Linked DNA regions of Homo sapiens. The protein of the gene in region 2 purifies or fractionates together with the protein of the main gene of each other region. This does not show direct contact. Each region holds a gene or a part of one and is shown on either strand. Other genes may lie near its edges. The genes, in order: MARCHF5, TOMM70 and AMBRA1.

Region 1 (3,653 bases), on a different chromosome or scaffold from region 2:
CAGAGAGGAAGAACAATTATTATCACAGATGCAGGCTCTTAAGTATTTTGTTTAATGGCTGCATGAAGCCACTAGCGTACAGAGTACGAATCAACTCTTAGTATATACGAATGTAACATGTTAATCAAGAAATACAAGCAACTTTTTAAAAGTTTTAGAAGAAGATATTTTCTTTTAACCAACAATTATTTTTGAAACTTGAATTGAAAAGTTGTGCTGGAATCAGCATAGCTAGAGCACTAGCTTTGTGTGCAGCAATGAAGAGCCCACCACCTGAAAGCCAATTCACACATGGCTTCATTTACAGACAACAGCTGGCTTGAGTCATTGTTAATAACTGCATGGAAAATTGTGAATATAATTAAAATTGCAGCCCTTGAATAGGTATCTTCAGCATGTTAAGAATGCAGCGGCAGGCTGGGCACACAGTGGCTCATGCCTGTGATCCTAGCACTTTGGGAGGCCAAGGTAGGTGGATTGCTTGAGCCCAGGAGTTTGAGACAAGCCTGGACAACATAGCAAGACCCAACCTCTATTGGCGGGGGGGGGCGGGGGGAAGCAGCAGCAGCAAATACTCTGTTTTTCTGTTTTGTCAAGAGGAAATATGCTAACAATACCTACTCAAATGAAGGATATACTTTTTTTTTTCTTTTTTTGAGACAGAGTCTTGCTCTGTCGCCCAGGCTGGAGTGCAATGGTGTGAGCTTGGCTCACAGCAACCTCTGCCTCCCAGGTTCACGTGATTGTCCTACCTCAGCCTCCCAAGTAGCTGGGATTACAGGCGCCTGCCACCACGCCTGGCTAATTTTTGTATTTTTAGTAGACACAAGGTTTCACCATGTTGGCCAAGCTGGTCTTGAACTCCTGATATCAGGTGATCCGCCTGCCTTGGCCTCCCAGTGTTGGGATTACAGGCGTGAGCCACCGTGCCCAGCGGATATTCATTTTTTTTTATAACACTGATGTCATTAAAACATATCTATGATTTTAAGCGGCTAACTCAAGTGCCATACCTCTATGACAGACAGTATAGTGACCAGCTTGAACATATCATTTGAGAGTAAAATTATAATTCTCTCTTTTATTTAAGATTGGTTTCACTCTGTCACCCAGGCTAGAGGGTAGTGGCGCAATCATAGCTCAATGCAGCCCCAAACTCCTGGGCTCAAGTGATCCTCCCAGCTGAGCCTCCCGAGTAGCTAGGACTTACAACAGGTGTGCTCCATCACACTTGGCTAATTTTTTTTCTTTTTCTTTTTCTTTTTTGTAGAGAGACAAGGTTTTGCTATGTTGCCTAGGCTGATCCTGACCTCGTAACCACAAGCAATCCACCCACCTGAGCCTCAAAAGTGCTGGGATTACAGATGTGAGCTACCATGACTGGCCACAATTCTTTTTTGTTGTTCAGACAGGGTCTCACTCTGTCTCCCAAGCTGGAGTACAGTGGCGCAATCACAGCTCACTGTGGCCTCCACCTCACAGGCTAAGGCAATCCTCCCACCTCAGCCTCCTGAGTAGCTGGGACTACAGGTGTGTGCCACCATGCCCAGCTAATTTTTTTTTGTTATTTTTGGTAGAGATGGAGTTTCACCCTGTTGCCCAGGCTGGTCTCAAGCAATCTACTCGCCCCAGCTTCCCAAAGTGTTGGGATTACAGGTGTGAGCCACTGTGACCCGCCACAATTTTTTTTTTTAGCACGGCGTCTCGCTCTATCTCCCAGGCTGGAGTGCTGTGGCGCTATCTTGGCTCACTGCAAGCTCTGCCTCCCGGGTTTACGCCATTCTCCTGCCTCAGCCTCCCGAGTAGCTGGAACTAGAGGCACCTGCCACCAAGGCTGGCTAATTTTTTTGTATTTTTAGTAGAGATGGGGTTTCACTGTGTTAGCCAGGATGGTCTCGATCTCCTGACCTCGTGATCTGCCAGCCTTGGCCTCCCAAAGTGCTGGGATTACAGGTGTGAGCCACCGCGCCCGGCCCGGCCACAATTCTTAGTAACAAAATATGCAGACTAAATAATGATACAAATGGCTTAACCAAAGAGTTTTACTCTTTTCTTTTTTCTTTGAGATGGAGTCTCGGCTCTGTCGCCCAGGCTTGTGTGCAGTGGCACGATCTTGGCTCACTGCAACCTTTGCCTCCTGGGTTCAAGCAACTCTTCTGCCTCAGCCTCCTGAGTAGCTGGGACTACAGGCACACGCCACCATGTCCAGCTAACTTTTGTATTTTTAGTAAAGACATAGTTTCACCATATTGGCCGGGTTGGTCTCGAACTCCTGACCTCGTGATCTGCCCGCCTCTGCCTCCCAAAGTGCTGGGATTACAGGCGTGAGCCGCCACGCCCAGCCAAGATTTACTCTTTTCTAACAACTAGGTAGACTTAAAACCATATTCAATTACTGCACTAAACCTGAAAACATATTTCCTAGAACTGAATTCAACCAAAAGGACAGATCTACACATTGCCATCTCCAAAATTAAAATACTCAACTTTGCTTTCGAGTGCCATACACTTGTCAACTTGATGTAGTTTTCAGTGAGAATTCTTGTAATAATTTTTGTGTCCATTTGAATATCTAAAACATCTAATAGAAATATTTAATTGTTGCTCTTCCCAACTCTATAATTCAAAGGTGGGGCTATCTAATTTAGTACAACTAAGAGCAAGAAAAGAAATCAGTTAAATATGAAACCTTAACTTGGACTTTAGTGAGTCTTTCACCATTCATGTGGTGGTACAATAATGTGAACAATCATTGCTTTTCCTGATACTGATTTAAAAATACTTCTTTGATCTTACAATAAAAACATTTTGAATTATTCTTTTGTGTTTATCTAAAATCAGTGGTATGCACTGAAGACCCATCACATGGTCCACAAATTCCAAATGTTTGAAAACACTACTTTCTCTACTACACTACTTCCCCTTCAAAGGAAGCTATCATTTCTTCCTGTGCATGTTAGAGAAAAACAGAGAACCAAGGACATTTTGTTTGCCCTTATTATTAATCTTCTCATATTAGAAAAGCACTTCATTATCTGCATTTATGTTGCCACATTTTCAAAAACATTGGTCTGATTTCAGTATGAATAGCACTTATAAAAAACAATATATATAATAATTATTTCCAATTTTTCCTGAATTCCCTCTGCCCCCAAAGACATTCTTTCCTTATGACCTTCCCAGAACCCAAGCTGCCTTCCTATACCTCTTGGTTACAGTCAAGGGTTATAAAAAAATGTTTAACAACTGGCATGGTATAAACACCAAACCAAGAGATTGACACCAATTTATAACTGTATGGCTGTAATGGAACAGGCTCACTAAATATCAGCCTTAGTTATACTGCTGCTAAAGAAGCAGCCTTAGAATGCTTCTTGTAAGCAGTCTGCTATACTTTTTTTCCATGCTAGGCCTGTTCTCAAAGATCTTTGGTTATTTCTTACCTGCCACTTCACAGAAAAGGGATAGCAGGGTTCATGAAAGAAACCACATAAATTGGATTCCAAAGATGAGTTTAACGTCACATCTTATTAAATATTTAATTTCTCTACTTTTATTCCTTAAAAGGAAGAATTAAGGAGAAGTATTAGAACATACTACTGCTTTCTTTCTCTTACACCGTCTCCAGATAATTAAGCTAAGTTAGTTTTTTT
Region 2 (3,653 bases):
GGTGACTATATTTAATCCCCCATTATAATATATGGCAACGTGATAGGCTTATTTTTAAAAAAAACTTTTTTCAAGAGTTCATGTTCTGGCATTAGGCCAACAGCTAGCAGATCTGCAAAATCCTAGGATAATCTGCAATTTCATTTATTCAAATTCACTTATTTAATTGTAAGGTTCAGAATGGATTTTTTCAAAGTTCAATTAACGTGAACAAAATTCCATCAAACCCTATCAGAGGTCTTTAGTTAACCCAGGATCTATGAAAGCCTTGAATTAAAAGCAAAGTGTTTTTGTGTGCATTATTCTAAGAAGAATCCACAGCTTCGCTCAAAAAAGATTAAGAACTACCACCCTATCCTATTCTAGTACAAGAATATTTTATTCACATTAACAAATTAGCAATTAAGAAATAATTTAGGCTGGGTGCAGTGGCTCACACCTGTAATCCCAGCACTTCAGGAGGCTGAGATGGGCAAATCACTTGAGGCCGAGAGTTTGAGACCATCCTGGCCAACATGGCAAAAGCCCATCTCTGCTACAAATACAAAAAGTTAGCTGGGCATGGTGGTGCATGCCTGTAGTCCCAGCTACTTGGGTGGCTGAGGTACAAGAATCACTTGAACCTGGGAGGCAGAGGTTGCAGAGTCAAGATTGTGCCACTGTACTCCAGCCTGGGCTGGAGACTCTGTCTCATAAAAAGAAGAAAAAAAAACTTAATATTTACATGCCACTGTGGGTACAGAATGGTTAAAAGAAACACAATTTTTTTTTTACCAGCCTATATATATTCTGCCTACTGTAGAGCAGGGAGAGGACTACAGGAGGGGCTGAATGATAGGGAATTAAGAAAACTCATGCTGCTTCCTGACAAGTGATAATGCCAAGATCAGTGACTGTGGTATCAGTGATATATGAGCTCAAACCCTGTCTTCTCTATTGGCTTACTGTGCAACCTTGTAAACCTAAGCCCTCTGGGCATCAGTTAAATTAGGGATCATATAATCTCCACCTTTATAAAGATGGGGATGAAGATTAATTGAAATAGTACTTAGGAAACATCTAAAGTTTAATACTTGGCCTAAAGTAGGAAACTCAAATGAATGGCAATACCAGTATTAAGATGGTATACAATAAATCCCATATATAAAACAGCTGTCACCTTTTAATGGTGGATCTTAAGAGCAACTCTGGATAAACACTTACACAAAATAAGAGGTTAAGGACAGAGCTGCAAAAAATGTTCTTATCCAACTCTGATTTTAAAGAAAATTCAGGGGCTCTGAGTTGATGTTGCAACTTGCCCAGCCATTTGGCTGGATGCTTCTTTGGAGGAGGGTCCAGATTTTCTGGCAACTTGGCTACCAATCCTTATGTCACTGCCTTAGCACATTTTTTTTTCCAACGTGAATAATACAGGTGAAAAGAGGAAAGAACATAACAGACTTTAACATGTACGTAATAAGAACAAAAAGCTAAATATCTATGGAGCTACCATATATTTCCTAACAGACTCCAGAAGTTACCTTTGTACTTCAATAGTTCCCATGGTTTCATAGGCAAAATCACATTTATTGTCAATTTCAATAGCCTTGCTGATAAGTTCCAAACCTCTATCCAGATCTTGCTTCCACTGAAGTTGAAGTAAACTGCAAATGCAAAAAAATGTCAGATGTGACCATGGCCCAGTATCAGTAGGAATACACACACATTAATATGACTCAATTTCTGCCTTCAATGAACTTATAAGTTAACTTATAACTTATAAGGCAATATATAATCAGCATCAAATTGTGTTTTTTTTCTCAGCTTATATTGGTTTGCTAGTCTAAGTTCCTTATTACAAAAAGTGTTCAATGGTCTAGGCTCTATTACCAATCTTGCATCCCTTATTTTTCACTTTATATAAATTTAAGTGAAGTTTCTTAGGATAATTCAAGTACGCAAGGACACGAACACTTGTGTATGCTTCGTATTTGGATATAAGCCAACAGCTGACAGGATGTTCAGTTTGAAATTAAAACCCTTAACACAGAGCAAGAATAGTACATTAATTTCTTTCTTTTTGTTTTTTTTGGGACAGAGCCTCACTCTGCCGCCCAGGCTGGAGAGCAGTGGTGCAATCTTGGCTCACTGCAACCTCTGCCTCCCAGGTTCAAGTGATTCTCACTCCTTAGCCTGCTGAGTAGCTGGGAATCGGGCATGTGCCACCACACCTGGCTAATTTTTTGTAGTTTTAGTAGACACCGGGTTTCACCATGTTGGTCAGGAGGGTTTCGAACTCCCAACCTCAGATGATCTGCCTGCCTCGGCCTCCCAAAGTACTAGGATTACGTGTAAGCCACTGCGCCTGGCCTCCTTAACTAATTTCTGTAAGAATGAAAAGACATCTAGGAGCATTAAGAAGTTTGTCAATTAACTTCTCTACCACAGTCCCCTTCCTCAGTGGCCAAAATAAATACATTTTATTACTATGCAAGAAATTTATTATCTCATTGGAACAATCACAAAAATACATACCCTTTATGAACATATGTTGTAGCATTATCTGGTTCCAAATCAATACATTTATCATACATTTCATCAGCTTTACCAAACTGTTGTTGATCTGTTAATGCCTATGTGAGGAGATACTTCAGTTATATTAAGGTAACCGTCAACCTAAGCAGTTAAAAGTATACTTATTATTCATTATAAAAATTTACTTCATTCATTATTACAAAATTATCACGTTTTGGGGATACAGACTGATTTACATTTTACATCTTAATTATCGGAGTTTTTAGGTGGCACTGCTATAAATATGAAATCTTAACTATCCTCTTTCTTCAGCAAGTGGTTAGTTATATGCCACAGCAGATAATCTCTGGTAAACTGTTCAATACAGATAATCCCATTCTTAGTCACAGCTCTAATATCACATTCTCATAGGTACAGTCACATCACTTATTCATAATTTATCATAATACAGCCCAAGGGAATTTTTTTTTTTTTTTTTTTGAGATAGAGTTTCATTCTTGTCACCCAGGCTGGGGTGTAGTGGCGCAATCTCTGTTTTCTGCAACCTCCGCCTCTTGGGTTCAAGTGATCCCCCTGCCTCAGCCTCCTGAGTAGCTGGGACTACAGGCGCCCAACACCTTGCCTGGCTAATTTTTGTATTTTTAGTAGAGATGGGGTTTCACCATGTTGGCCAGGTTGGTCTCGAACTCCTGACCTCAGGTGATCCACCCACCTCGGCCTCCCAAAGTTCTAGGATTACAGGAGTGAGCCACCGCACCTGGCCAGGGAATTATCTTAAGGGCAATATTCATTTGGAAGTATAAGTTAAGATGTATGTGTTAAATGTCTTCAGAGCTATTTGTTTAAAATTATTGATTTTTTAAAAAGCAGCTATAACTGCTTCAACTAATATATCTCCAAAAATAATTCCCTAATATTATCTATAATACCTAGCCCATATTCAGTTAACCCCGGTTATTTATAAGATGACTTTTAAGAAGTATGTGAGTCATTATATTTAGCTGTATGGCTCTTAGTCTTTTCATATCTAAAATAAGCCAACTTAAATATTTTAAAAATCGCTCTTAAAAATATCAAAGAAATGTAGCCAGCACATCTTCTTTATAATAAAAATCAGAAAGATATAGAAAGTAGAA
Region 3 (3,208 bases), on a different chromosome or scaffold from region 2:
GCAGTGGTGTGATCTTGGCTCACTGCAACCTCCGCCTCCCGGGTTCAAGCAATTATCCTGCCTCAGCCTCCCAAGTAGCTGGGATTACAGGCATGCACCATCATACCTGGCTCATTTTTGTATTTTTAGTAGAGATGGTGTTTCCCCATGTTGGCCAGGCTGGTTTCGAGCTCCTGACCTCAGGTGATCCACCCTCCTCGGCCTCCCAAAGTGCTAGGATTACAGGCGTGAGCCACCACGCCTGGCCATATTTATTTATTTTTTTGAAATGGAGTTTTGTTCTAGTCGCCCAGGCTGGAGTGCAATGATGCGATCTCAGCTCACTGCAACCTCCACTTCCTGGGTTCAAGCCATTCTTCCGCCTCAGCCTCCGAGTAGCTGGGATTACAGGTGCCCGCCACCACACCCAGCTAATTTTTGTATTTTTAGTAGAGACGGGGTTTCACCATGTTAGCCAGGCCAGTCTCGAACTCCTGACCTCAGGTAATCTGCCTGCCTCAGCCTCCCAAAAGGCTGGGATTATAGGCATGAGCCACCGTGCCCAGCCTTTGTTTTTTGAGATGGAGTTTTGCTCTTGTCACTCAGGCTGAAGTGCAGTGGCACAATCTTGGCTCACTGCAACCTCCACCTCCCAGGTTCAAGCGATTCTCCTGCCTCAGCCTCCTGAGTAGCTGGGATTACAGGCTCCCACCACACCTGGCTAATTTTTTGTATTTTTAGTAGAGATGGGGTTCCACCATGTTGGCCAGGCTGCTCTCGACCTCCTGACTTCAGGCGATCCGCCCACCTAGGCCTCCCAAAGTGTTGGGATTACAGGCGTGAGCCACCGTGCCTGGTCAGAAGCTGAGAGTTTTAACTGTTCCTTGGAAGGGCTGTTTCCTTCTCTTCTTTCCCTTTACCCCCCAGTCTTCACAAGCTATTCCCCAGTTATTGTTCTCCTGGGGCTCAATGCCTGATGCCATATTTCCCGGAAAAGAGTCAACTGACCAGCACAGGACCCAGGTCTAGGGAGGGAGAGAAGGATCTGTCCGCCACTCCCTCTGCAGAAATGCCTGAGCATTCCCTTGTGTGGGAACAGAAAAGACTTCGGCTCAAATCTCAGCTGTCACTTGCTTGCTGGGTGACCTTGAAAAAAATCCCTAACATCTACCTTGCACGGTGCTGGAGAGAGAAAAGGAGCTAACGCACAGCCCAGGCACTTGGTCAACGGTGCCTGTTGTGATTAACTTGGGGTCTGCAGCAGTGGAGCTCTATTGCTGTGGGACCTCCCTTCCAGCTTTCTGCTCAGCTCTTGGTAGGGTGAGAACCAGGCCAAGACCGTGGGCAACTATGATCAAGGCTCTGAGGCTGCGAGGGATGGCTCCACTGAACTGCTGATTTGTCTCCATCAGCTACTGTTTGGAATTTTGCAGTTTTGGGGGTTTTGATGGTGAGTTTTCTTTCCTTTTGGGGTACTTGCCAGCAGCTATTTTTATGAGACTTTCTTTGCTCCCCTAACCCCATCCATCCCCTTCTCTCTGCCTGCCTCATTAGAGTTGGATTTCCAGGCCAGCCAGTTTCACAGCTTGGTGGCATCTAAGGCCCCAAGAGATCTCTCACCCTTCTTGTTGGTACTTGGCAGCCTCATGCTTCTAGTTCTTTCTATAGTTTTTTTTTTTTTTTTTTTTTTTTTTTTTTTTTTTTGAGACCAGGTCTCGCTATGTCACCTAAACTGGAGTGCAATGGTACAAACATGGCTCACTGTAGCTTAGCCTCTTGGGTGCAAGTGATCCACCCACCTCAGCCTCCTGAGTAGTAGGGAGTACAGGCAAGCACCACTCCTGGCTAATTTTTTGTACTTTTTGCAGAGACGGTTTCGCCGTGTTGCCCAGGCTGGTCTTGAACTCCTGGGCTCAAGCAATCCTCCTGCCTTGGCCTCCCAAAATGCTGGGATTACATGGGTGAGTCACTGCGCCCAGCCCCAGTCTTAGACGATCTTCCTCAGCATTATGTCCTCTCTTGCTTTTCTGGACAACCCCTGATAAAGCACTGCCCTCCATCCCTCAAGGTGGCTGCCCTTCCCCACTTCCTCCTGGGACACCCGGCTCCAGCTCCCAGGGCAGAAGGAGAGAAAACCTGAAGGGCTCTCAGAGTACTGGGTCAACCCCATCTTCAGGTTTTAAAGCCTTCTAACAGTGGGGCAGAAGGTAAGAAGAAAAAAGTCAACCTACGGCCTTGGTGCCCACAGAGATTCTACCCTGGGAGCCAAGGGCTGCCTGGGGAGGTCCCCTGGGGCCCTCCCTGTGCTCACTGTAGCCCCAATGCTTTCTCAGAACTCTGTGCACTGAAGCCCTCGCAGCATGGTCTGGGGCGTGCTGTGGCTGGCCTGAGGCCTGCTGGCATTGGAGTGCACTGTGCCAGGCGCTGTGCCTAGTGAATTCTCAGCTCTTTTCGAGACAGAGTCTCGCTCTGTCGCCCAGACTGGAGTGCAGTGACATGATCTCAGCTCACTGCAACCTCCACTTCCCGGGTTCATGCAATTCTCCTGCCTCAGCCTCCCGAGTAGCTGGGACTACAGGCATGTGCCACCATACCCAGCTAATTTTTGTATTTTTAGTAGAGACAGTGTTTCATCATGCTGGCCAGGCTGGTATCAGACTCCTGACCTTGTGATCCACCCACTTGGACCTCCCAAAGTTCTGGGAGGCATGAGCCACCGCACCCAGCTCAGCTCTTCTCAAGTAGATTACCAGGGGCAGAACAGGCTGCCTTGGGGCCCTATGGGTGCTGCTGCAGCCAAGCCCCCAGAGAGCCCCGGATGGGCTTTCCCAGGCTCTGCGGGAGGCCCTGCTGCTGGCACTCAAGTCTGAGCCCACTGCTTGCTTGCCTATGGCTCCAGGCCTGGCCACCCCTCTCTATGGCTATGACTGTGTCCTAACTGGGCTTCTTGCTTCCAGTCTCCTCCCCTTCCGTCTAGTCTCCACACTGTTCCTATTACCATCCTAATTCAGCTCTGCTGACTTGAGCTCTGGTTAAGTCTGCACCCTGTTCAAAACCCAGCAGCTGCAAAAGCCCTCACAGTAGTCAAAACTCCTTAGCTTGACATTTGAGGGCTCTCTGGCCAGACCCTTATCATGCTGCAGACCTTCCTGCCCTGTCCCCCACATTCCTGCAGGTACCCGGCAGCCCTGCTCCCTGCCTGCACAGATGGGCATACACTGTGCACACT

What was found.
Region 1: the proteins of TOMM70 (region 2) and MARCHF5 purify together in Homo sapiens (affinity purification with western blotting; 2 studies listed by BioGRID, with this or other methods). This does not show direct contact.
Region 3: the proteins of TOMM70 (region 2) and AMBRA1 purify together in Homo sapiens (affinity purification with western blotting, with the first as the bait; one study listed by BioGRID). This does not show direct contact.

The regions. Positions count from the first base shown.
Region 1 is NC_000010.11:92,311,645-92,315,297, reverse strand, and holds part of MARCHF5 (E3 ubiquitin-protein ligase MARCHF5), read right to left. Parts: intron 1-3,653. UniProt on the Homo sapiens protein: Mitochondrial E3 ubiquitin-protein ligase that plays a crucial role in the control of mitochondrial morphology by acting as a positive regulator of mitochondrial fission and as an important regulator of immune response.
Region 2 is NC_000003.12:100,366,521-100,370,173, forward strand, and holds part of TOMM70 (mitochondrial import receptor subunit TOM70), read right to left. Parts: intron 2,616-3,653; coding exon 2,518-2,615; intron 1,647-2,517; coding exon 1,524-1,646; intron 1-1,523. UniProt on the Homo sapiens protein: Acts as a receptor of the preprotein translocase complex of the outer mitochondrial membrane (TOM complex). Recognizes and mediates the translocation of mitochondrial preproteins from the cytosol into the mitochondria in a chaperone dependent manner.
Region 3 is NC_000011.10:46,398,827-46,402,034, forward strand, and holds part of AMBRA1 (activating molecule in BECN1-regulated autophagy protein 1), read right to left. Parts: intron 1-3,208. UniProt on the Homo sapiens protein: Substrate-recognition component of a DCX (DDB1-CUL4-X-box) E3 ubiquitin-protein ligase complex involved in cell cycle control and autophagy.